2 linked regions of the Homo sapiens genome follow. The protein of the gene in region 2 purifies or fractionates together with the protein of the main gene of each other region. This does not show direct contact. Each region holds a gene or a part of one and is shown on either strand. Other genes may lie near its edges. The genes, in order: SPIN2A and SIPA1L3.

What was found.
Region 1: the proteins of SIPA1L3 (region 2) and SPIN2A purify together in Homo sapiens (affinity purification with mass spectrometry; one large-scale study listed by BioGRID and IntAct). This does not show direct contact.

Annotation. Positions count from the first base shown.
Region 1 is NC_000023.11:57,134,887-57,138,951, forward strand, and holds SPIN2A (spindlin-2A), read right to left. Parts: upstream 2,512-4,065; 5' UTR 2,374-2,511; exon of another isoform or gene 2,319-2,373; intron 2,256-2,318; exon of another isoform or gene 2,162-2,255; intron 1,991-2,161; exon of another isoform or gene 1,717-1,990; 5' UTR 1,712-1,716; coding exon 935-1,711; 3' UTR 764-934; downstream 1-763. UniProt on the Homo sapiens protein: May be involved in the regulation of cell cycle progression. Exhibits H3K4me3-binding activity.
Region 2 is NC_000019.10:37,909,926-37,913,742, reverse strand, and holds part of SIPA1L3 (signal-induced proliferation-associated 1-like protein 3), read right to left. Parts: intron 1-3,817. UniProt on the Homo sapiens protein: Plays a critical role in epithelial cell morphogenesis, polarity, adhesion and cytoskeletal organization in the lens.

The sequences.
Region 1 (4,065 bases), on a different chromosome or scaffold from region 2:
TTGGCTCCTGATTAACTTGACTGAGTCATTCCTGTCAACATGCTCTTCTAGTGAACCTCCAATGCATCTGGCATCTTTGACAGTTGCCACTTCCTTTGTGCATAGAGCCAGGAAGAGCAATGTGGACACTACCAGAAGTCCAACATTTTCCTGGGCCTTCCGATCTCTCATGGGCCCCATACCCCACAACTCTTTTCCTGTATTCTCACTCCCTCTGTCAGTCTTTCTTCTTTGAATTCCTCCTTCCTCAGTGGCCCTCTTCTAATCCCTCCAACACCCTAACCCACATAGCCTCTTCCTTTGTGTATCCTTTAGCCTCTCCCAGATCCCTGTCAGGTTGATCCTTCTCCACCTTACTCTGGACCCTCTTCTAAGCTTCTTTGTGTTCCTCTCTACTCAGTTTATTCTATTTTCCTCTAAGCCCCAAGATCTCACTCTCCCTCTGTTAGTCTTCCTTCTGAGTTGGATGTTTCCTTCTCATAGGTCATCCCCTCCCCCAAGGAGCCCCTCCCTTTCTGGCCCTTTTCCACCTCTTCCTAAGCAGTCACCTCCTCCTCTCTCCCCAAGACAGCCAATCTCTTGTTCCTTCCCCTGCCCCCTCCAGACCAGACCAGCTAAATCCAGTGCCATTTTTAAATGACTGATTATGATTCTAGCTGAACTTTATTCACAGCCGAAATTGACAGCTGTTCGTTCCTTCCATGCCCCATCTACCAAACACACCCGAACTTTTCAACAAGACAAAGGGCTTACAGACAGCATGTCATGTATTCACAAATTTGTATTTTTTAGAGCAAAACAACAGTTAATGCTGGCAAAGATGTTTAGTTATCAGGGATTCCATAAGCTTTCAGTACACTGAAAGGCAACATTTTTTGCATGTCTACAAATTATACATTTGTTTCCACACATGTGCCAAATTTTACCCTAACAGTTAGGACTTTTTCACCAAATCGTAGACATAGATATGGAAATCATCATCAAACTTGATGAAATACACAGAGGGTTTGGTTTCCACTTGGTGAATGACCATGCCGATCCTTTTGGAGCCATCTTCTTTGGTATATTCCACATGCTTACCTATTAGGCCATCTACAACTCCTCCTGGCTCCCTCTCTGTTGGAGGAGACTCACTGGATTCTGGCATGATGCGGAGGTCACCTTCCTTATAATCATCTAGAAGCTGGTACATGTACAAGACAGGATCTTTCTCATAGGTAATATAAAACCAGGCTTTCATGATAGGTGCTTGAGCTAAGACCATCCCCCTCCATTCATCCTTAGAACCATGCTCTCCCTCAAACATGTGTTCCACTGCTTTGCCAATTATGGTATTTGCAAGGTTGGCATCACTAATGTGAGATGATGCCACCCTGTCAGAAAGAATTTTAAGAGACAAAACCCTTTCATCTCTGTGAAGTTCCAGTCCATAGACACAGTCAATTCCATCATATTTCACCAGATAAAGAGAGGGATTTATAGGCACCTGATCCAGAACGGTTCCTTTCCACTGCGTGATGGGCTCATCTCCTTCCTTCCATCCATGAGAAATTCTGCAGCCCACGATGTTCCTGCGGGGCTGGGATGAAGGTCGGCCTCTCTGCTTCTTTTGGGAGACTTTTTTCTTTGTCATGTTTGCAGACCCAGTGGCCCGTCCTGCAGCTGCCCTGGTTTGTTGCCCTTCGGCTTCCTGTGCGTTGGGGGTCTTCATGCCTGCTGGGGGAGGAGAGAGGATAGAGAGACACACCCAGTGTGCCACAAGGCAAACTTTTCCCTATAGCCATGTCTGGATGTAGTCTGCGCTAGTGCCTAAGTTTCCCCTAGGAGCCTGGAAGCAATGCTGGAAATCCTGGCTGCATGCCCGCAGTGCTCTCCCTCTTAAGTTCCTTTGGGCTGTGGGGAAGGGCTGGGGTGGTGCAGTAGAGCTGTCTGGGGTTAGGAACTCTGCAGAAGTGGCTGGGCCACCTCCTCCTAGCTCAGAGCCCACTGCCCTCCCTTTACCCTTTACTGCCACTAGCATCCACTCCCAATCCCCTGCAAAGCGGCCTTGACCAGCACCCACTACCCTCCTGCCCTGAGTGCCTCTGGTGCTGTCTGTAACCCCCACTGCCTATCCTAACCACTTCCCTGTTACCTACCTCCCTTGCTTCCTGGCGCTCACCTTCAAATCCTTGTCTGGCTCCTATTCCTACCCCCTTTCCCTGTCGTCCACCGCACTCCCCCACCCCACCCTTGCCTGGCGCCCAACTCCACCCCATGTCTCCTGCTGGATTCCTTCCCATCCCCCTCTCCATTCTGGCGCCCACTAATGGCCTTGCCCTGCCTGGCGTCCACCGCCGGGGATCGCGGGCCTCACGTGCCGAAATCGGATACCTCGATGCTGCCTCTGCTGTGAGCCTGTGGCGAAGGAGGGTCAACAGGCGACTCGCTGAGTGACTGCTTGCAAGAGCGGGGAGGGTAGGATCCATAGATGAGGAGCGTGTGTAGGAGCGCGGCGAGACAGGCAAAGAGCACTGCAGCGGTGTCCCCAGCGCTTCGCTCGCTGGCCGTCTACCTCCCTGTTGGTGGCGGCCACCCCTCAGCCACGTTGGGCTGCCACCAGTCCCTGATGCAGTGGCTGTAGTCTCTGCCCTTTTTCTGCACAAGACTACAGTGTTAGTTTCCTCTTAGTAGTGATGTCTTCCATTCTAATCACAGAGCAGATCTGCCTTTCTTTTCTTGGGGCCCCTCCTGGGCTCCTCCTTCCCTTTCCACAATTCACAACAGTGGAACCTGTAGGTGGCCTTTTCTCTCTTCCTGTCTCTGCTGGCTGGATCCTTCAAGCTCTCTAGCCCCTCCCCTCAGCTCTCTTGCTCCATCTGTTTTCCATCTTTCAGACATTTCTCACATTCTTTGGAAACATACAAATTAACATAGAAATACCATGTGTATACATTTATGGAGACATGAATCCTTTACGACCATATGCAAATGTGTATGTATGTATATATATATATATCTCCAAGCACATGCACATGTATAAAACTATGAATTCTGTGTACAGTTCCAGAAATTCCTATCCATAGATTCTTAATTCCAAATACACACCTCTATCCAATCACATAACTCACAGATATAATTCTCTGTATATGCATACACACTCACGAATACATACATTAAGTGTTTCTCCAAAGCATTATGTAGGCATATTTTAGATTTGGAGACCTTGCTTTGAAGAAGTATTGGCTTATTTTAAGCTTAAAGAGTTATTTTTGAATGTGATTACAATACTTAACAAACCTTATCTATTTCGCATAAAGTGAAGTCATTTTTAATTTTTGTGTGTTTTTTTGTGAGTTACAGTTTTTCACAGTATCCTATAATTCTGAAAATAATCAACAATATTAGATTGCTATATCAAGTAAGATGTTTTCAGTTACATGTTGTAGGACAACAAACCAAATGGGTGTACAATAAAAACAATATGTTGGCTAACATCTGAAAAGTTAAATAAGTGTTAGGTTAATCTTAATCTATGGTGGAATAATATTTTATTATATATATATATATATCACATTTTTTATCCATTTATTTATTGATGGACAGTTAAGTTGATTCCATATCTTGTCTATTGTGATCAGTGCTGCAAATAAATATGTGAGTGCAGATAGCTCGTTGATATGCTGATTTCCTTTCTTTTGGATATATACCCAATAGTGAGATTGCTGGATCTTAGGGAATTTGTAGTTTTAGTTTTTGGAGGAACTACCACGCTGTTTTTCATAATGGCTATGCTAATTTATATCCCCACGAGCAATTTACAAGGATACCTCTTTCTTCACTTCCTTACCAGCAGTTTTTATTTTCTGTCTTTTTGATAATAGCCATTTTAACTGGGGTAAGATGATATCTCATTGCTATTTTGATATACAATTACCTGATGATTAGCGATTTAGAATACTTTTTATATATCTGTTGTCCATTTGTGCGTCTTAGTTTGAGAAATGTCTACTCAGCTCTTTTGCCCATTTTTAAATCAGATTATTTGATTTTTTACTATTGAGTTGTTGGAATTTCTTACATATT
Region 2 (3,817 bases):
GCCCAGCCAGGATTTTTTTTAATTAAAAAAAAAAAAAAGAAAGAAAAGGCTGGGCACAGTGGCTCACGCCTGTAATCCCAGCACTGTACAAGGCCAAGGTAGGCAGATCACCTGAGGTCAGGAGTTCAAGACCAGCCTGGCTAACATGGCAAAACCCCTCCTCTACTAAAAATACAAAAATCAGCAGGGCATAGTGGCGCATGCCTGTAATCCCAGTTACTCAGGAGCCTGAGGCAGGAGATGGGCTTGAACTTGGGAGGCAGTGGTTGCAGTGAGCTGAGATTGTGCCAGCCTGGGTGACAGCGAGACTCCATCTCAAAAACACAAAGTGAAATGATCCTGTTTATTGTGTGTCTTCCCGGGCTAGAATGGCTAGAATGTAAACCCTAGGACAGCAAGGATCTTGTCTGTCTTGTTGACTGCTGAATCCTCAGTGCCTAGGATAGGACCCTGGCTCACAGCAGGGTCTCAACACATCTGTCAACTCAATAAAATAAGAATAGTAGCTAACTGCACAGGGCTAATGACAGCCTAATGTGCTGAAAGTCTTGCAGACATTTCATTCAGTCTCCAGCGACCCCCGAGGTAAAGACTACTATCATACCCATTTTGCCAATGAAGAAAAAAGCTCAGTGCACATCTTACAAGTTAGTGGCTATACTGTGATTTGAACTTGGTCTGCCCGCCACCTAAGCCACCTTCCAACCATGGCACACTTCTCGCAAATATGAGGAGTGATATTTCCCACTGATGCTCCACCACCAGCCCCTCACCCCCACCACCCACTGTGGTCAGGGCACTTTACTGGCTCCTGTCTTCCTGGGCAAATCTCCTCCCTTCTTTCAGCGGCAGCTGGATCCCTCACCTTAGGCCCCCAACATCTCCAAGCGGGATCCCTGCAATATAACTTTTTCTTATTTCTACCTGGTGTTTCAAGTGATTGAGTTGGCTCTTCCTGTGAATTTCTCTGGGTTTGAAAGAACACATGTAGGCTGAGGCGGGAGGATCATTTGAGGCCAGGACTTCGAGACCAGTCTAGGCAACATAGTGTGAGACCCTATCTCTACAAAAATTTAAAAATTAGCTGGGTGTGGTGGTGCACACCTGTAGCCCCAGCTACTAGGGAGTCTGAGGTGGGAGGATCACTTGAGCCCAGGAGTTCAAGGTTACAGTGAGCTATGATGACGCCACTGCACTCCAGCGTGGGCAACAGAGTGACCCTGTCTCTAAAAAAAAGATCACAGCTGGCCCTGCCCTGAAGGCTTGACATAGATAATCTTATGAAACCTCTCAACAACCACCCTATAAGGAAGACACTGGTATCATCCCCATTTTCAGATCAGGACACTAAGGCTCAGAAGGACACATGATTTGCCCAAGGTATCACAACTAATATAGGATAGAGTCACAGTGTGAACCCAGACCATGTGGCCCCAGAGTTTGTGCTTCAGCCACTGGGCCATGCTGCCTATGTGAAAGGATACTTTTTATACTTTTTTTTTTTTGAGACAGAGTGTCACTCTTGTCACTCAGGCTAGAGTGCAGTGGTACAATCTCGGCTCACTGCACCCTCCACCTCCCTGGTTCAAGCAATTCTCCTGCCTCAGCCTCCCAAGTAGCTGGGATTACAGGCTCTCATCATCACACCCTGCTAATTTTTTCTTTTTTTTATAGATGGAGTCTCGCTCTGTCGCCCAGGCTGGAGTGCAGTGGCACAATCTTGGCTCACTGCAAGCTCTGCCTCCCAGGTTCACGCCATTCTCCTGCCTCAGCCTCCTGAGCAGCTGGGACTACAGGCACCGGCCACCACGCCTGGCTAATTTTTTTGTATTTTTTAGTAGAGACGGGGTTTCACTGTGTTAGCCAGGATGGTCTCGATCTCCTGAGCCACCACCAAGGATACTTATTAGATGTGTGTTTGCTGAGGTAAAGAAATCTCAGAGGGGCCAGGCGCGGTGGCTCACGCTTGTAATCCCAGCACTTTGGGAGGCTGAGGTGGGCGGATCACGAGGTCAGGAGATCGAGACCACGGTGAAACCCCATCTCTACTAAAAATACAAAAAATTAGCCGGGCGTGGTGGCGGGCGCCTGTAGTCCCAGCTACTCGGAGAGGCTGAGGCAGAGGAGAACGGCGTGAACCCAGGAGGCGGAGCTTGCAGTGAGCTGAGATTGCGCCACTGCACTCCAGCCTGGGCGATAGAGCAAGACTCCGTCTCAAAAAAAAAAAAAAGACATCTCAGAGGAACAACCTAAAGGACCAGCAGTGGGGGAATGCTGGAATAAAGCGTGGTCTCTCTGCACTGAAGAATGTGGGTACAGCTGTTGAAAAGGATAAGCCAGATCTATATGTAATGACTTGGAAGGACATGCCCAGCCATTAATTGAAAAAACTGGGTTACAAATAGGTGTAGCTTGATCCCTACCCCCTCCTTTTTTGGGGAATGGTATGGGAGGAGGAAGAAAACAGTCGATACACACACACACACACACACGCACATACATACAAACATAATCAATATAAACACAGAAAAAGATAACTGAAGCATCTGTCCAAATCACAAGGGCAGAGAGCACATCCATTTTGTTCATTATGCTATCTCCAAAGCCTAGCAATAGATACTTAATAGATACTCACTGTCTGAATAAATGGTTATCTCTGGCGACATGGGGTTTTGGAGTGGAGGGTGGCACTAGGTATTTTCCCTACACCTCTGTATTGTTTGACACGTTACAACAAGCATGAATTTCTTGCATAACTTTTTTTAAGCTAAATTCAACCCAATCACATACATACACACACGCACAAAAGGTCATGACCAAAATAGTCCTTAAAAAAAGGAAGCAATAGGCCAGGCACGGTGGCTCACGCCTGTAATCTCAACACTTTGGGAGGCCAAGGTGGGTGGATCACCTGAGGTCAAGAGTTCGAGGCCAACATGGCGAAACCCCATCTCTACTAAAAATACAAAAATTAGCCAGGCATGGTGGCATATGCCTGTAATCCCAGATACTCAGGAGGCTGAGGCAGGAGAATCGCTTGAACCTAGGAGGTGGAAGTTGCAGTGAGCTGAGATCGTGCCACTGCACTCCAGCCTGGGCCACAGAGCAAGACTCTGTCTAAAAACAACAAAAAGGAAGCAATATCAGTCTTGAAGAATACACAAATGCACAAACTGGTACAACAGCCTCTCATTCTTTTTTTTTTTTTTTTTCTGAGACAGGGTCTCACTCTGTCACACAGGCTGGAGTGCAATGCTGCAATCACAGCTCACTACAGCCTCAACATCCCGGGTAGCTGGGACTAGAGATGTGTGCCACCACACCTGACTAATTTTTTGTAGAGATGGGGTTTCGCCATGTTGCCCAGGCTGCTCTCAAACTCCTGGGCTCAAGTGATCCACCCACCTCAGCCTCCAAAGTGCTGGGATTACAGGCATGAGCCACTGCACCCTGCCAAATAGCCTCTCATTCTAATAGCTAAAAACAAACACTTTATTTTAAAGGAAATGATTATTGAATTCTTTTATTAAAATGTAAATACATTTAATTTACATTTTACAAGTTACTAAGACTATGTTTGAAATATATCAGTAAAATATATTTTACAGCAAAAAAATGAGGCACCAATCACTGCACATTCTAAATTCCACTTTTGATTTACCACCTAACAACTGCAATGTCTGAAACACAGACTCACATTTAACTCTTAGATCATTCATTCTACACTGACTGCTAAAAAGCCACGTGCTGCTTTTTTTTTTTTTTTTTTAAGCCACTGCTTTACTTCTTCAGGTTAGCAAAATGCTTAGGTAAATTT